Linked DNA regions of Homo sapiens. The protein of the gene in region 2 interacts with the protein of the main gene of each other region in a biochemical or structural test. Each region holds a gene or a part of one and is shown on either strand. Other genes may lie near its edges.

Evidence for each region.
Region 1: the proteins of NHERF1 (region 2) and ABCC4 form a complex in vitro, tested with the Homo sapiens proteins (3 studies listed by BioGRID and IntAct, with this or other methods).

The regions. Positions count from the first base shown.
Region 1 is NC_000013.11:95,158,452-95,165,480, reverse strand, and holds part of ABCC4 (ATP-binding cassette sub-family C member 4), read left to right. Parts: intron 1-962; coding exon 963-1,103; intron 1,104-1,833; coding exon 1,834-1,871; intron 1,872-2,264; coding exon 2,265-2,359; intron 2,360-4,145; coding exon 4,146-4,292; intron 4,293-7,029. UniProt on the Homo sapiens protein: ATP-dependent transporter of the ATP-binding cassette (ABC) family that actively extrudes physiological compounds and xenobiotics from cells.
Region 2 is NC_000017.11:74,751,627-74,758,655, forward strand, and holds part of NHERF1 (Na(+)/H(+) exchange regulatory cofactor NHE-RF1), read left to right. Parts: intron 1-7,029. UniProt on the Homo sapiens protein: Scaffold protein that connects plasma membrane proteins with members of the ezrin/moesin/radixin family and thereby helps to link them to the actin cytoskeleton and to regulate their surface expression. Necessary for recycling of internalized ADRB2.

The sequences.
Region 1 (7,029 bases), on a different chromosome or scaffold from region 2:
AATGTACCAGAGCTCACTTAAAAGCATAGATATTCCTTGCCACACAAACCCTGACTATCCAAATCCAGGAGACTGAAGGATTCTTGCAGATATTCAGATTAGGCCCTCACATGCCAAATTATCAGGAGTCAATTTCTGAAACTCAGGAACCAAATAGATTAGGATCATATGCTATCCCTTCCTTTCCAAACTCTGGTTACTGAGACTCACTGCTTGACCCCAGTTACTGTGTTGAGCTCATGTTTTGACCCCCTGCTCTTTTATGTTTCCATCTTGAGTGATGCAGTTGAGAGTTCCATATCTTTTTGTATATGATTTTGGAACAAGTTTCTGTATTGACACTTGAATTTGGGTGTGCTAGGTAAGTGCTGAACATCCTGATGGCATCCTTCCAGCAAGCCACGCCACAATGTCCAAATGATATTTCCTTATCTCTAGTAGAACCTTGAAAGTGGGATGGCTGGGTCCAAGGATTAGTGCATATAGCTGGGTGTGGTGGCTCATGCCTGCAATCCCAGCGCTTTGGAAGTCCGAGGTGAGAGGATCACCTGAGGTCAGGAGTTCCAGATCAGCCTGGCCAACATGGTGAAAACCTGTCTTCACTAAAAAATACAAAAAATTAGCCAGGCGTGGTAGCAGGCATCTGTAATCCCTGCTACTCAGGAGGCTGAGGCAGGATAATTGCTTGAACCTAGGAGGCAGAGGTTGCAGTGAGCCAAGATCGCGCCACTACACTCCAGCCTGGGAAACATGAGCAAAATTCTGAGTCAAAAAAAAATTAAATAAATAAAAAATAAGTGGATGTATAGTTTGGCTAGCTATTTCCACACCCTTCTCCACAGGAGATGGATCATTTTGGACTTCTGCCTGTTTCCCCACAGCTTTGTCAACAGAGTGCATTGTCATCTTTGGGAACAGTTTTGTATACTGTTTTGTCTCTTACCACCTTTTTTCCTCTGCAGACAGAGAATGTCCCAGTTACACTATCAGAGGAGAACCGTTCTGAAGGAAAAGTTGGTTTTCAGGCCTATAAGAATTACTTCAGAGCTGGTGCTCACTGGATTGTCTTCATTTTCCTTATTCTCCTAAACACTGCAGCTCAGGTAAATAATGACATTTGTTTTGCGCCCTCAAAATGATATTTACAGTACCTATGTTTATGCTATTATGACTGCATCTTGCAGTTCACTTGGGGTCTGAATTGAAATGTGCTGTCTTTGGGGAACAAAGTGAGGGCTGCCTACTGGTGTTCCATGTCCGTTACAAAGACCTGCGAAAAAAGGGTATCTTTCAATGATTTTAAAATGGAATATGCATTTTCTTGAACCCTTGATATCTGGGAGTTTGGGCTTGGCACAGACCTGAGCTGGAAGAACTATGCGAGTTCTCTGAGCCTTTTATTCTTTCTTTCTTTCTTTCTTTCTTTTTTTTTTTTTTTTTGAGATGGAGTTTTGCTCTGTTGCCCAGGTTGGAGTGCAGTGGCGCGATCTTGGCTCACTTCAACCTCTGCCTCTGGGGTTTAAGCAATTCTCCTGTCTCAGCCTCCGGAGTAGCTGGGACTACAGGCACATGTGCCACCATGCCCAGCTAGGCTAATTTTTGTATTTTTAGTAGAGATAGGGTTTCACTATGTTGGCCAGGCTGGTCTCGAACTCCTGGCCTTAAGTTGATCCGCCTGCCTCAGCCTCCCAAAGTGCTGGGGTTTACAAGCATGAGCCACCACGCCCGGCTTTGAGGGCTTTCTTTCGGTTGTCCATGTTAGCGATTGAGAGTTTTGAGTTGGTAAGTCATGCCCAAGTTTGATTTTTGTCTTTGTTGTTTCTCCCCTCCTAGGTTGCCTATGTGCTTCAAGATTGGTGGCTTTCATACTGGTAAGTTATTTCTGGTCTGATGTATGAAATACTCCAAAATCAGTAAGAAGACTCGCTTTTCCATAGAGTTAGAGGGAGGTGTTTGTTGATCCTTCTCTTCTAATCCTCACTTCGTTTACCCGAAGAAAAATTAGAGTGCTTGCTGGTGGAGTGTAAACTGCGGTGGTCTCCACCCATGTCTGATCCGCGGCATCATGTTCACAGACAGTTTCGGGAACTGAAAGTTGTGATTTAAATTGAATTTTTATAAGGTAGATATACACAAGACTAAGTGAGCTGAGAATCATTTTCCAGCATGAAGCGTTTCTCCCAAATTGTGGTTCATTTTTAAAAAAATGTATTTATCTAAATTTCATATATAGCTTAATATTTTTTTCTCCCCATGTTCCATAGGGCAAACAAACAAAGTATGCTAAATGTCACTGTAAATGGAGGAGGAAATGTAACCGAGAAGCTAGATCTTAACTGGTACTTAGGAATTTATTCAGGTAAAGTTTAATCATTTGGTGTATTGTATGAGAGGCTGAGGTGCTTACAATGAGCCTGTGTGAGTAACTAGGGCTTCCAGGAGTCATTCAGTAATGTCTTAACAGATCAGGAGTCTCAGTCGAATTTACTCTGTGAATTAATTAGAATAATTATTTTAAAAATCTACTAGAAGAGAGGTTGACTGAAGACTCTTAATTTGCTCTGTACTGGATTTTGAAAGTTAAACCAGGATTGAGCATTCAGAAAATCAGCCACTGGAAATATGTGGCTATTGTCTATTCTAATAGGTTGCTTTAGCTAAATCTTATATCATTATACGGATGGGCAGGGGGATTAGAAACGGATCTCCACCCTGTGGTTCGGATGGTTCCAATTCTGTCTAAATAAACCCTGGCTTTTATTGAACTTGGATGAAATCCTCTGGCAGCAAGGCCCCCAAAATAAAAGCATTATTCCCTCCCAGGTATGCAAAGCTCCCTTCAGCACTGCTCATCTCCTGGGCTTCACTAATTACTTAAGAGGGAAGCTGAGCAGGGAAAAATCCAGTGTCTGGGAATTAGGATGCCTTCTATTTCTTACCTTGAGATCACAATGTTATCGCGTCCCCAACTGTGTGATTAATTTAACATTTGGCTTGCCAGACTAATATTAACGCCACACTCTGTTTTCACAAGAGTGCTTAGAATGTATGTAGCATTACATACTGTTTAAAGAAAATCTTCATCTAAAATTTTAAATATTTCCACAGGAAATGCTCCTACAAGCTTTCCTCAGAGATAGAGTGAGTTATCTTTGTAAGAACCTACTCAGTGAAATTTGGTGTTTATTTCATCGATCGCTTGCTAAGAAATCTAAATCTGTTAGGTGTTTACCTTCCAACTGATGGACTATGTGGAAACTAAAGGAAGAAGGAAATCTATTATGTTCTATTATGTTCGTGTAGGATGGCAGGCTAAGGATAATGCCCGTTGATGGAGTTAGGAATTTGAGCTGCTTTCAGAGGTTAAATAACAGTGACATGTCATCTGAAAGGGAAATATTTGTTATAGAAGTTACCCCCACTGTATTTAGCATTGTGAATGAAGAGATGTTAGGAAAGCTCTTTTAATTTCTATGTGAATAATGGATCCTCATTCATGTCTTAATAAAATGTATGATTTATTTTATTCATTTAAAAATGTCTTGTGTCTATGTAAAACAGTGGGGGATTAGTTGCTTATTTAGATTAATTATCTTATGTTAAAATATAATTTGTGTTTTCTTGCAATTCAATTATTCAAGAGGTTTTCCACATGCAACTTAATACGGTATTTTTAAATTCTTTAAAGCTACTTGGGCATTTTCTACAAGGAAAAGGTAAATCATTTCTCCTATTCCTTGTTAATATCACATGTTGGTATCAAAACATACCACCTTTTTTAGATTATGGGACATAATGTAAGTAATAAGATTTGGAATATGGAGAAGATCAACTACACTTCATGATTATCTATCCTACTTCTGAGTTTTTAATAGAACTTGCAATTGAATTAGAGCCTAGAATGAAATTGTATTATACACCTGATTTTTCTTTTCTGTGCAGTTTCCATTCAGTGAGAGAAAAATAAACTATTTTAATCCTTCTTTGTCAATGTATTTTGTAAATACATTATACTTATGTAGAATCCAGATGCTTTATGGAATAAATTAAGTAACATCTTTATAAACTACCTGGCTTGCTTTAGCAACTATTGAAGAAAATGCAGAGATATGCTGTGTTCTCTAAGTGATATTTCTTTATTTCAGGTTTAACTGTAGCTACCGTTCTTTTTGGCATAGCAAGATCTCTATTGGTATTCTACGTCCTTGTTAACTCTTCACAAACTTTGCACAACAAAATGTTTGAGTCAATTCTGAAAGCTCCGGTATTATTCTTTGATAGAAATCCAATAGGTAAGTCTGACACCAAGTTTCTCAGTAAGTATGTCTTGTTAACAACACATTTAGGATCTGATTACATTTCCATCTTTGAAAATGGAAGGGATGCTGGGAAGAAAATCACTATGCATGTTGATTCATTTTCCACAAGAAACTTCACTGATATTTTTCTCCTACCAGAGAAAATCTAAATATGCGGGGGGAGGGGGGGGCATACAATCTTTTATTCCAATTTATATGTGTGTGGAAAAATAAATGAATGTTCACTTTGCAGAATGCTTTAGGAATCCATTTGCTGTGAGGCAAGTGAAGCATCCTGCATTCCCTGTAAACATGTTTAAATGTAGTTGAATAGTTGCTAAACATTGGCTGTGTTTACATAGTGTTAGGTTATGCCATTTTTCAGAGGGATCTTTGTAATCAGGAATGCTCTGACGTGAGACAGGCCGTGCATTTCTTTCTTTCATTGGGAAACCCGTTCATTTCTGGAAACACAGGGTTTTTGTACATACCCTGACTGTGAGGTTTCCCTGAAAGATAATATGTGGTTAATTAAAAGCCAAGATTGATAAAATGTAAACTCCCCTTCAAGAACAGTTTCTAACTCTGTGGTTTTGAAGTAGACTTTTGGTTCTATAATAGAGACTTTGTTGAACCTGCCATATAGATCTTCAGTAGCTTGTTTCCTAGGTATACCCAACTATACCCAGTATTTTCCAAGTGGTTGATGCCTCTGCACTATGCGCTTCTTATCTGTCCTGCTTCTGAGGCTAGCCTTCCTGACCTGGGTTCCTAGGGAGAATTAGTTGTGCCTATAAGTCCCCACCCTGCTCAGTTGAGTGGACTTGTGGGGAGGCCTGAGTGACATTGTGCAAATGATAACTGCCCTCATAGAAGCAGGGAGGTGGCCTGGAGAGAACACAGGCACAGCTTTGGCCTGGCCATTGACTAGCTTTTTGACCAAGGCCAGAGCACATAGGTGCTATTACACAGGCAAGTCTCCAAGCAGATGCTGTAGTTCAAAGTGTGAACTCAAGCTAACTACCTGGGTTCAATCCTGGTGCTGGTTACTAATTGTTATAGCTGATTATAGTTACATTCATATTCATGTCCTAGTTACTTAATTTTTCTGTGTCACAGTTTTCTTATCTGTAAAATAGGGATACTATTCATACCCACCAAATTGAAATCTTATGAGAATTAAGCATGTTAATACATTCCTAGCACATGAAACTGGGTGTAGCAACATGGTCAGTGCCTAACGAATGTTAGTGACAATGAAGCCATGTATCTGTGAACTGAATCACCTTCACTGTGGGGTGGAAATTACTCCTACCCTCTCTGTTTTACATGATTTTTGTGAAGATTAAAGAAGACTGTTCTGGAAAGCATCTTGTGTAGATTTATTTAACAAATACTTTTCAGTCCAAGCACTGTGCAACGTGCAAGGATTTGTAAACTGCAGAGACCACACAAATATCGGTCTGATTTCAGCTGTTATTAGAAAGTCATTGGAGGACCTCTGCGCTATTACAGCTGTAACGTTGCGCCACTTTGCCAGTTAATTTGAAACTACAGTCATAACATTTGGAGCATTAAGTGGGACTGCCTTTCTGTTATCACAGGCCTCGGAATGCTCATGACTACCATTAACCAGCCTCTCCATGTTTGAGACCTGTGGGCTTCTCCTCATGCTGATTTATTTATTATTCAGGGATTTGGGACCCAGTCTAAATCTTGGAGGTGACTAATCTTACAGCAGCACCTGAGTGTTTATCTTGCTTCCTCCTCCTATATCTATTAGCATGACTTTATTCCTTCAACAAAATAGAAGCCCAAATAAGTACCCCAAGAGAGGTCTACTTTGTCCAAAATGTTTAGAGGTCATGAATTATTTACTTTTTTTAGTGGTAGATGTTGAAAAAATGTAAAAATTAAAAGTTTTTTAATGGTAGAATTAAAATTTTCATTTAGATAAAATTTTTGCACTTTTTACAATGGTGAAGGATACACAAAATCTGTGAATTACGCCTCAGAATTCACATTACTGATTGTATGCACTTCAATAGTTATATATATATATATATATATATATATATATATATATATAAAATTTATTTAGAAATAAGGTCTCATTCTGTTGACTAGACTGGAGTGCAGTGATGTGATCACAGCTCACTGTAGCCTTGACCTCCTGGGCTCAAGCGATCCTCCTGCCTCAGCCTTCCAAGTAGTTGGGACCACAGGCCTGTGTCACCATGGCCAGCTAATTTTTAAAATTTATTTTATTCTATTTTGAAGAGATGGGATCTCACTATGTTACCCGGGCTGGTCTCGAACTCCTGTGCTCAAGGGATCTTCCTGCCTCAGTCTCCTCAAGTGCTGGGATTACAGGCATGAGCCACTGGACCCAGCCGGCTTTATAATATAAATAAAAATTCCCCTCTATGATAGTGAGGCAGGCATGCTCGATTTTTCAGTACTCTTAAACATACATGTTAAATATGTATAAGTATCTGGCATGATGTTGTGCCCCCTGAATTGCAGAGTGTTCTTTGAGTGGGGTAGAAAGACTGGGAAGCATGTCTGAATACTTAGTTATTAAAAGCAAGCTCTTAGAAGAGCCCCGGGGGAGTTTCCTATGAGCTCAGCATCCTGATATTCTCCCAGGTTTTAGAAAACTTAGGAAACGGGGAGGACCTCTGCTGGCATGTAGTTTCCAGTAAGCTCACCTTGGGATGGTGACTGGCAC
Region 2 (7,029 bases):
GCTCTGCCCACCGGCTTTGCTTTGTGGATGGCCTTCCCCGCCTGCCCCGTGGGGAGAGAGGAGCAGCAAGACCCGCCCTGCTGTTCCCCTGCTTAAAGCCCTCCTCCCCCCATTCACCACCAGTCACAGGATGAGGCCTAAACCCTTGAGTCTGGGTTCAGAGTGCCGGCCGGGCAGAGCCGAGCCAGCTCAGCTGTACTAGCCAGGCTGTGCGAAGCCAAGTTACCTCACCTCTGTAAGCCTCCATTTCCTCTTGTGTAAGTTGGGGGTTATGGCAGCTACCTCGGAATTGCATGAGGCTGTGTGTAAAGCACGTAGCTCAGTGCCTGGCACTGAGTCCAGGCTCAGCCAGCCTTTGCAGTTGGTATTGGAATGAATACATATTTCATAGTGATCATTGCACACCTATCATGGGGCAGCTAGCGCTGGGTCAGCCTGCCTAGTTGGGCAAATGCCACTGTGGCCAAGCCTGGCACACAGTCAGTGCCTGATCGATGGTCACTGTGGGTTAAGAATGATACGTTGTGGCCAGGTGTGGTGGCTCACACCTGTAATCCCAGCACTTTGGGAGGCCAAAGTGGGAGGATCGCCTGAGCCCAGGAGTTTGAGACCAGCCTAGGCAACATGACAAGACCCTGTCTCTATTAAATTTTTTCTTTTTTTTTTTTAAGAGTTATATGCTGTTCCATGGCCCTTCTCCATCTGGCAGCCTGTTCTCACCACTGCCTCCCTACCCCCAAAACCACACCCAGGGTCCGAATTCCCCTCTAGCCTCTAAGCCTTCACACCCTGACACTTCTGTCCCCTCCCAGGGAGCCTGTCCTTAATCCAGTAGGCAGAGTTAGCATTTCCTTTCCTTCACTTTTTTTGTTTTTGTTTTTGTTTTTGTTTTTTTTGAGACAGATTCCACCCAGGCTGGAGTGGTGTCGCAACCTCGCCTCGCTGCAGCCTCGACCTCCAGGGCTCAATCGATCCTCCCACCTCATTCTCCCTAGTAGCTGGGACTACAGGCATGCACCACTATTCCCAGCTAATTTTTAAATTCTTTGTAGAGATGGAGTTTCACCGTGTTGCCCAGGCTGGTCTTGAACTCCTGGGCTGAGGTGATCTGCCAGCCTCGGCCTCCGCCTCCTCTTTGTCCTTACATCTTTTATCGCTCTAAACACACAATATTTTAATCATCTGTTTGTGACCTTTTTCTCCACTACGTGGTAAGCCCAAGGGCATCAACTGTGGCCTATTTGTGTTTCTATCCCCAGCGCTGTCCTTGGCACATGGTAGGGAGGCTCTCAAAAACAGTTTTTGAATTAATGAATGAATATATAACAACAGTCAGGGACCTTTGTCCTCATTCAGCTCATCCCGCCCCGCCCAGAGATTGGAATTCCAGATAGAACCTACCCACTCTTCTTTCTTGCCTGCTAGCAGCTTCTATTTGAAAACTAGAAAGCCAAAAGTCCAGGCTTTGGGGTCAGCCAGATCAGTGTTTGAATCCCAGCTCTGCCGTGTGCTGGTTCTGGGATCCTGGGAGTTCATTTTTCCCTGCAACCCTCAGCCTCCACCTCTGTGAAAGGCACTGCCTGCAGGGTTATTGGGAAGATTTGGTGGCATGACAGGTTTGTAAATGAAAGTGCTAGTTTGGGGTGTTTCCTGCCAGCCCTGACCCTGATCCCAGAGTCAGAGTGCAGGCACCCCAGGGAGCAAGGTGGGTGGTGGGGCACAGTTAGCTGGAGGGCCATCAACCTCTTTCCCAGGGCGGGCGGGCCATTTTACACCAACCAAGTTGGAGCTCTGGTAGGGCAGAACAGAGCTTGAGCTGCTGGGTGTTTGGATTTGAAATGGACAGGGTATGTGATTGTTTGTGTGTTGGGATCTCTTTCTTTGCTGGCAAAACAGTGTAGCCCCTGGTTCTTACCTTCAAGCTCCTGTTAACTCAGTAATTCTGGAGATGATTCTCTTGGAGATAGATGGGGGCTTCCTGGCCGGGCGCAGTGACTTGTGCCTGTAATCCCATCACTTCGGGAGGCTGAGGCGGGAGGATCGCTTAAGCCCAGGAGTTTGAGACCAGCCTGGGCAACATAGTGAGACCTCGTCTCTACCAAAAAAACAGGGGGAGGGGGGTGAATGGGGGCTTCCTTCTCAAGGAACTCCATATGTCTAGATGGGGTCCTTCTCCCCTTTCCCAGATGTCCCATCTCAATGGTCCCTGGGAAAGTGGGGTGGGAAATTAATAAGAAACTCAGGCCAGGCACGGTGGCTCACGCCTGTAATCCCAGCACTTTGGGAGGCCGAGGCGGGTGGATCAGTTGAGGTCAGGAGTTGAGGTCAGGAGTTCAAGACCAGCCTGGCCAACATGGTAAAAACCCATCTCTACTAAAAATACAAAAATTAGCGAGGCGTGGTGGCAGGTGCCTGTAATCCCAGCTACTCGGGAGTCTGAGGCAGGAGAATGGCTTGAACCTGGGAGGTGGAGGTTTCAGTGAGCCGAGATCGCGCCACTGCACTCCAGCCCGAGCAGCAGAGTGAGACTCATCTCCAAAATAAAAAAAAAAGAAAGAAGAAGCTCAGCCGAGGTCTTGTTGGTGCTGCAGGACTCTTTACAGGGAGAAACCAGAGCTCTAGACCCCAATAACAAATGTTCCTCTGTTTTCGTTGCTCTAAGATAGAGTGGCCCTACCTGGAAGGAAACAGGTTTGTACAGTGCCTTTAGGCACTCTACCTATGACATAAAGATGTTGACATGCATTTCTTTCTTTCTTTCTTTCTTTCTTTCTTTTTTTTTTTTTTTTTTTTCCTGAGACAGTCTTGCTCTGTTGCCCAGGCTGGAGTGCAGTGGTGTGATCTCGGCTCACTGCAACCTCCGTCTCTCAAGTTCAAGCAATTGTCCTGCCTCAGCCTTCCATGTAGCTAGGATTACAAACACCCGCCACCACACCCTGCTAATTTTTGTATTTTTAGTAGAGACGGAGTTTCACCACGGTGGCCAGGCTGGGTGGCACCTGTCACAACACCCTGCTAATTTTTGTATTTTTAGTAGAGATGGGGTTTCACCACATTGGCCAGGCTGGTTTCAAACTCCTGACCTCAGGTAATCCACCTGCCTCGGTCTCCCAAAGTGCTGGGATTATAGGCATGAGCCACCACACCCAGCCAATATGCATTTCATTGTCCCCCAGACAAATTAGCTATTGTTTTCTCTATTTTGTAGGTTGACAGTAAGTGTTCAATACATGATAGCTACTATTTGTGTCTAGCACTGTGCTAAGTACTAACCTTGCCTGTCTCATTTAATCCACATGACCACCAGTGAGGCAGATATTGGCCCCATTCTCTGCCTATGGAGGCTGAGGCTTGATCAGTTAAGGTGGCCATGGCGGGTCCCAGGACTCTGAGCTAGCGACTCCTCCCACACAGCGCAGGGGTGTGTCTTGGAACCCAACCCTCTGACTCTAGTGCCTGCACAGCCATTTGGCCACATGAGTAGGCTGTGCTTGAAGCCTGACTCTGCCAGGTGTTTCTGCCCATCATATTCTGAGCCACAGCTGGACCATCACAGTGGTATAAATTCAGGCTGCTTGAACTGGCTTCCTGTAAGGATCCAGGGCTTCCAGGTGCTCCTGTCCCTAGCAGGGCATCCTTGCAGTGCCTCAGCCCATAAGTGGCAGGCTCCTGTCCCCATCCCTTCTCACGTGATGTGATAGGTCAATCTGGAATCTGGTAACCAAGTATCTACCCCCGCCCTCACTCCCCAGAACCTGCACAGAGAGCCCCCCTCAAGGGTGGTCTTCACTGTTGACCGAAGCCTTCCCCTCATGGTAGGACAACTCACCATGTCCCCAGACTCCTAGGCAATGTTTAGGTCCCTAGGCCCTAGAAAAGGACAAGAGTTACAGATTCCCTGAGGTCCAGGTCACCTCGGGGTGGTGTGGGAACACACAGAGAATGCTGGCCAGGTTCAAGTCCCACTCACTGCTGGGTGCTGAGAGCTCTGAATTCTCCGAGACAGGCTGCAGCCTCTCCCTGTGCTAAGGTCAGGGGAACAGCAATGGCCAGGGGTATTTAGAGGAGTGTGTTTGGGGCAGTCTCAGGCAGCACAGGTCTGTGCTGTCCGGGCAGCAGCCACCAGCTTCGCGAGGCTCCCGGGCACTCGAGATGTGCTGGTCCACATGCAGACGTGCTGTGTGTGCAAAATGCACACCAGATTTTGAAGCCATTGTACAAATAAAAGGATGTACAATAGCTCAATTGTTAAAAATGGATTACACATTGAAATGATAATATTTTGGGTACATTATGTTAAATAAAATATTCAATTCTACTATTTTTCCTGTTTTTTTTTTTTTTGGAGGCAGAGTCTCGCTCTGTTGCCCAGGCTGGAGTGCAGTGGTGCGATCTCGGCTCACTGCAAGCTCCACCTCCCAGGTTCAAGCGATTCTCCTGCCTCAGCCTCCCAAGTAGCTGTGCACCACCACGCCCAGCTGATTTTTGTATTTTTCTTTTTTAGTAGAGATAGGGTTTCACCATGTTGACCAGGCTGGTCTCAAACTCCTGTGCTCAAGTGATCCACTTGCCTCGTCCTCCCAAAATGCTGGGATTACAGGCATGAGCCACCACACCTGGCCTATTTTTCTTTTCTTTCTTTCTTTCTTTTTTTTTTTTTTTTTTTTTTTGAGACGGAGCCTTGCTCTATCACCCAGGCTGGAGTGCAGTGGCGTGATCTCGGCTCACTGCAACCTCCGCCTCCTGGGTTCAAGCGGTTCTCGTGCCTCAGCCTCTGGAGTAGCTGGGACCACAGGTGTGCACCACCACATATGTCTAATTTTCATATTTTTAGTTGAGACAGGGTTTCACCATGTTGGCCATGCTGGTCTTGAACTCCCGACCTCAGGTGATCCACCTGCCTTGGCCTCCCAAAATGCTGGGATTACAAGTGTGAGCCACTGCACCCGGCCTATTTTTCCTTTTTCAAATGTGATGACTAGAAAATCTTACATTCCACACATGGCTGGCATTATATATCTACTGGACAGTGCTGCTCTGGATCTGAGCTCAAATCCTGCCTTTGCCCGTCAGCCATGTGTACTTGAGCAACTGACTCCAGCTTTTTGAAGCTGGGTTTCCTTTTCTGTGAAATGCTGGCAATAATACTTTCCTTTTAGGACTATAATTGGCTCTTAAGAAGAAAACACATGTAAAGAGCTCGGTGCCTAACACATAGTAGGTGTTCAGTAAATAGCAGCTGCTATTTGTTACTTCAGTGTTGAGCCCCAATTTCACAAGCTCCTTGAAGGTTCTTAATAGCCCCTTGGGACAACCCCTGGGGGTTAAATCTAGAGACTTCTGGGAGGAGGGTGAGGGATGAGGAAGGATGCAGCAGGGAAGGCATGGGGCGGCCAGCCCTGGATGGTGTCCAGCCGGGCTGCAGCCCAGGTACCAGCCTGCTCCATCCCAGGCTTGCCCAGCCCTGCAGAGACCTGAGCCAGACTCTGCCCCCTCTTGCCCCCGTGGGTCTCCATGGCTGGCACAGGGAGAAGAGGTTACTAGCCAGAAGGAGAACCTGTTTCAGACCTCTGAGTCCTGGGGGTGTCTGTCAGACCAGCAGACCTCACTTTAGTTTGTGTCTCCCTCCTGGTTCCCACCCTACCAGACTCCAGGGAAAGCTCTTCCCACTGAGAAATAGGAAGGAAGAGATCAAGGGCTAGGAGCAGTGAGTGACTTTTTTTAAAATGGACACATCCAACATTCCCCTGCCGCCCGCACAGACCTGGAGGGATGTGGAGGGTGGAAGGGGGTCCCATAGAGTAAAATGAGGTGACATCAGGGCCACTACGCAGGGGGCCAGTGACAGCCAAGCCCCCTGTACCTCACCTAGGGTAAGGAGAAGACACCTTCTGCCTAGAGGTGTGGACACTGGCTGAGTGCCTGGAGCCCCTGGTCACTTCCCAGTGCCCCCAGGCTGCCCGTCACACAGCACTCCAGGCAGGGCCAGCTGTCTCCATCCTGGCTTCCTTGAAGAGCTGGCACCAGGCCCAGCCCTGTCTCCAGAATCTGGGGAACAAACTGAGCTGTCTCCCAGAGCAAATATGGCTCTTACACCCAACATACTCCTGACACACACACCCCAGCCCCTGAGAACAGCCAGGGTTCCTTCCTGCCCCCGCCGTCCTGCCCCCTTCCATCCTCTTGTTGGGGCTGATTTTCCTGTATTGGGCATGGGGCACTGGTCTTCTTTGCATAAACAAGAGCCCTGGGCTGGGGGAGGGGCAGTCTTGAGAGGTGGGGTTACCTCTGTTGTTCCCCTGGACACCCAAGTGGTCTTCCTACTCCTCCAGCCCCTTTCCTCTGGGGTCCTGAGCTAGCTGGCTCGAAGGAAGCGGGCTGGGCTGTTTCTGTAGGGCCCATCACCATGGCATCAGCCAGGGAGGGGCTGGGCCCAATGGGGCGTTGGCCCCCAGGCTCCCACAGCCTTCCCTGAAGGGAGGAAGGAGGAGCAGGGAGCGGCCCTGGGCCTGTTCCCCAGAGACGGTCACTGGGATTAGGGTATCGACTTTCCCCAGCTTTCCAGGTGACTGCTGGTGGCGCCTATTGAATTCCGTGCCCGCCATCCGCTCCCTGGACTGCGTGGGTGGAGGTGATGGGGCGGCCACTTAGGGCGCGGTGAAGCTCCCTGGGGGAAAGGACAGATGAAGGGAGGAAGCCTGAGGGTGGAGGAGGCCCCGGGAGAAGGGTGTGGGGGCAGCTCTCCGGGCAGGGTCTTTTCTGGAAAGCCAGCCAGCATTTTGTGAAAGTGAGAGTCTCCAGCCTGTCCAGCCCTGGGTCACCCCGGCCCAGCTGCGCTGCCCATCGGCTGCATGGCCTCATGTTCCCTCCTGTTGATTCTGGCTCTCTGCCAGTCTCCTCTCTGAGCAGATCCTGATTTTGTCTTGAACTTGGGTCTCCCAGGCTGTCGTCGTCACTGGAGGTCCCACTTTGCCCTCCGGAACTCACTGGGGCTATGTTCCTTTTGAGTCTCCTCCTCCCACCATGCTT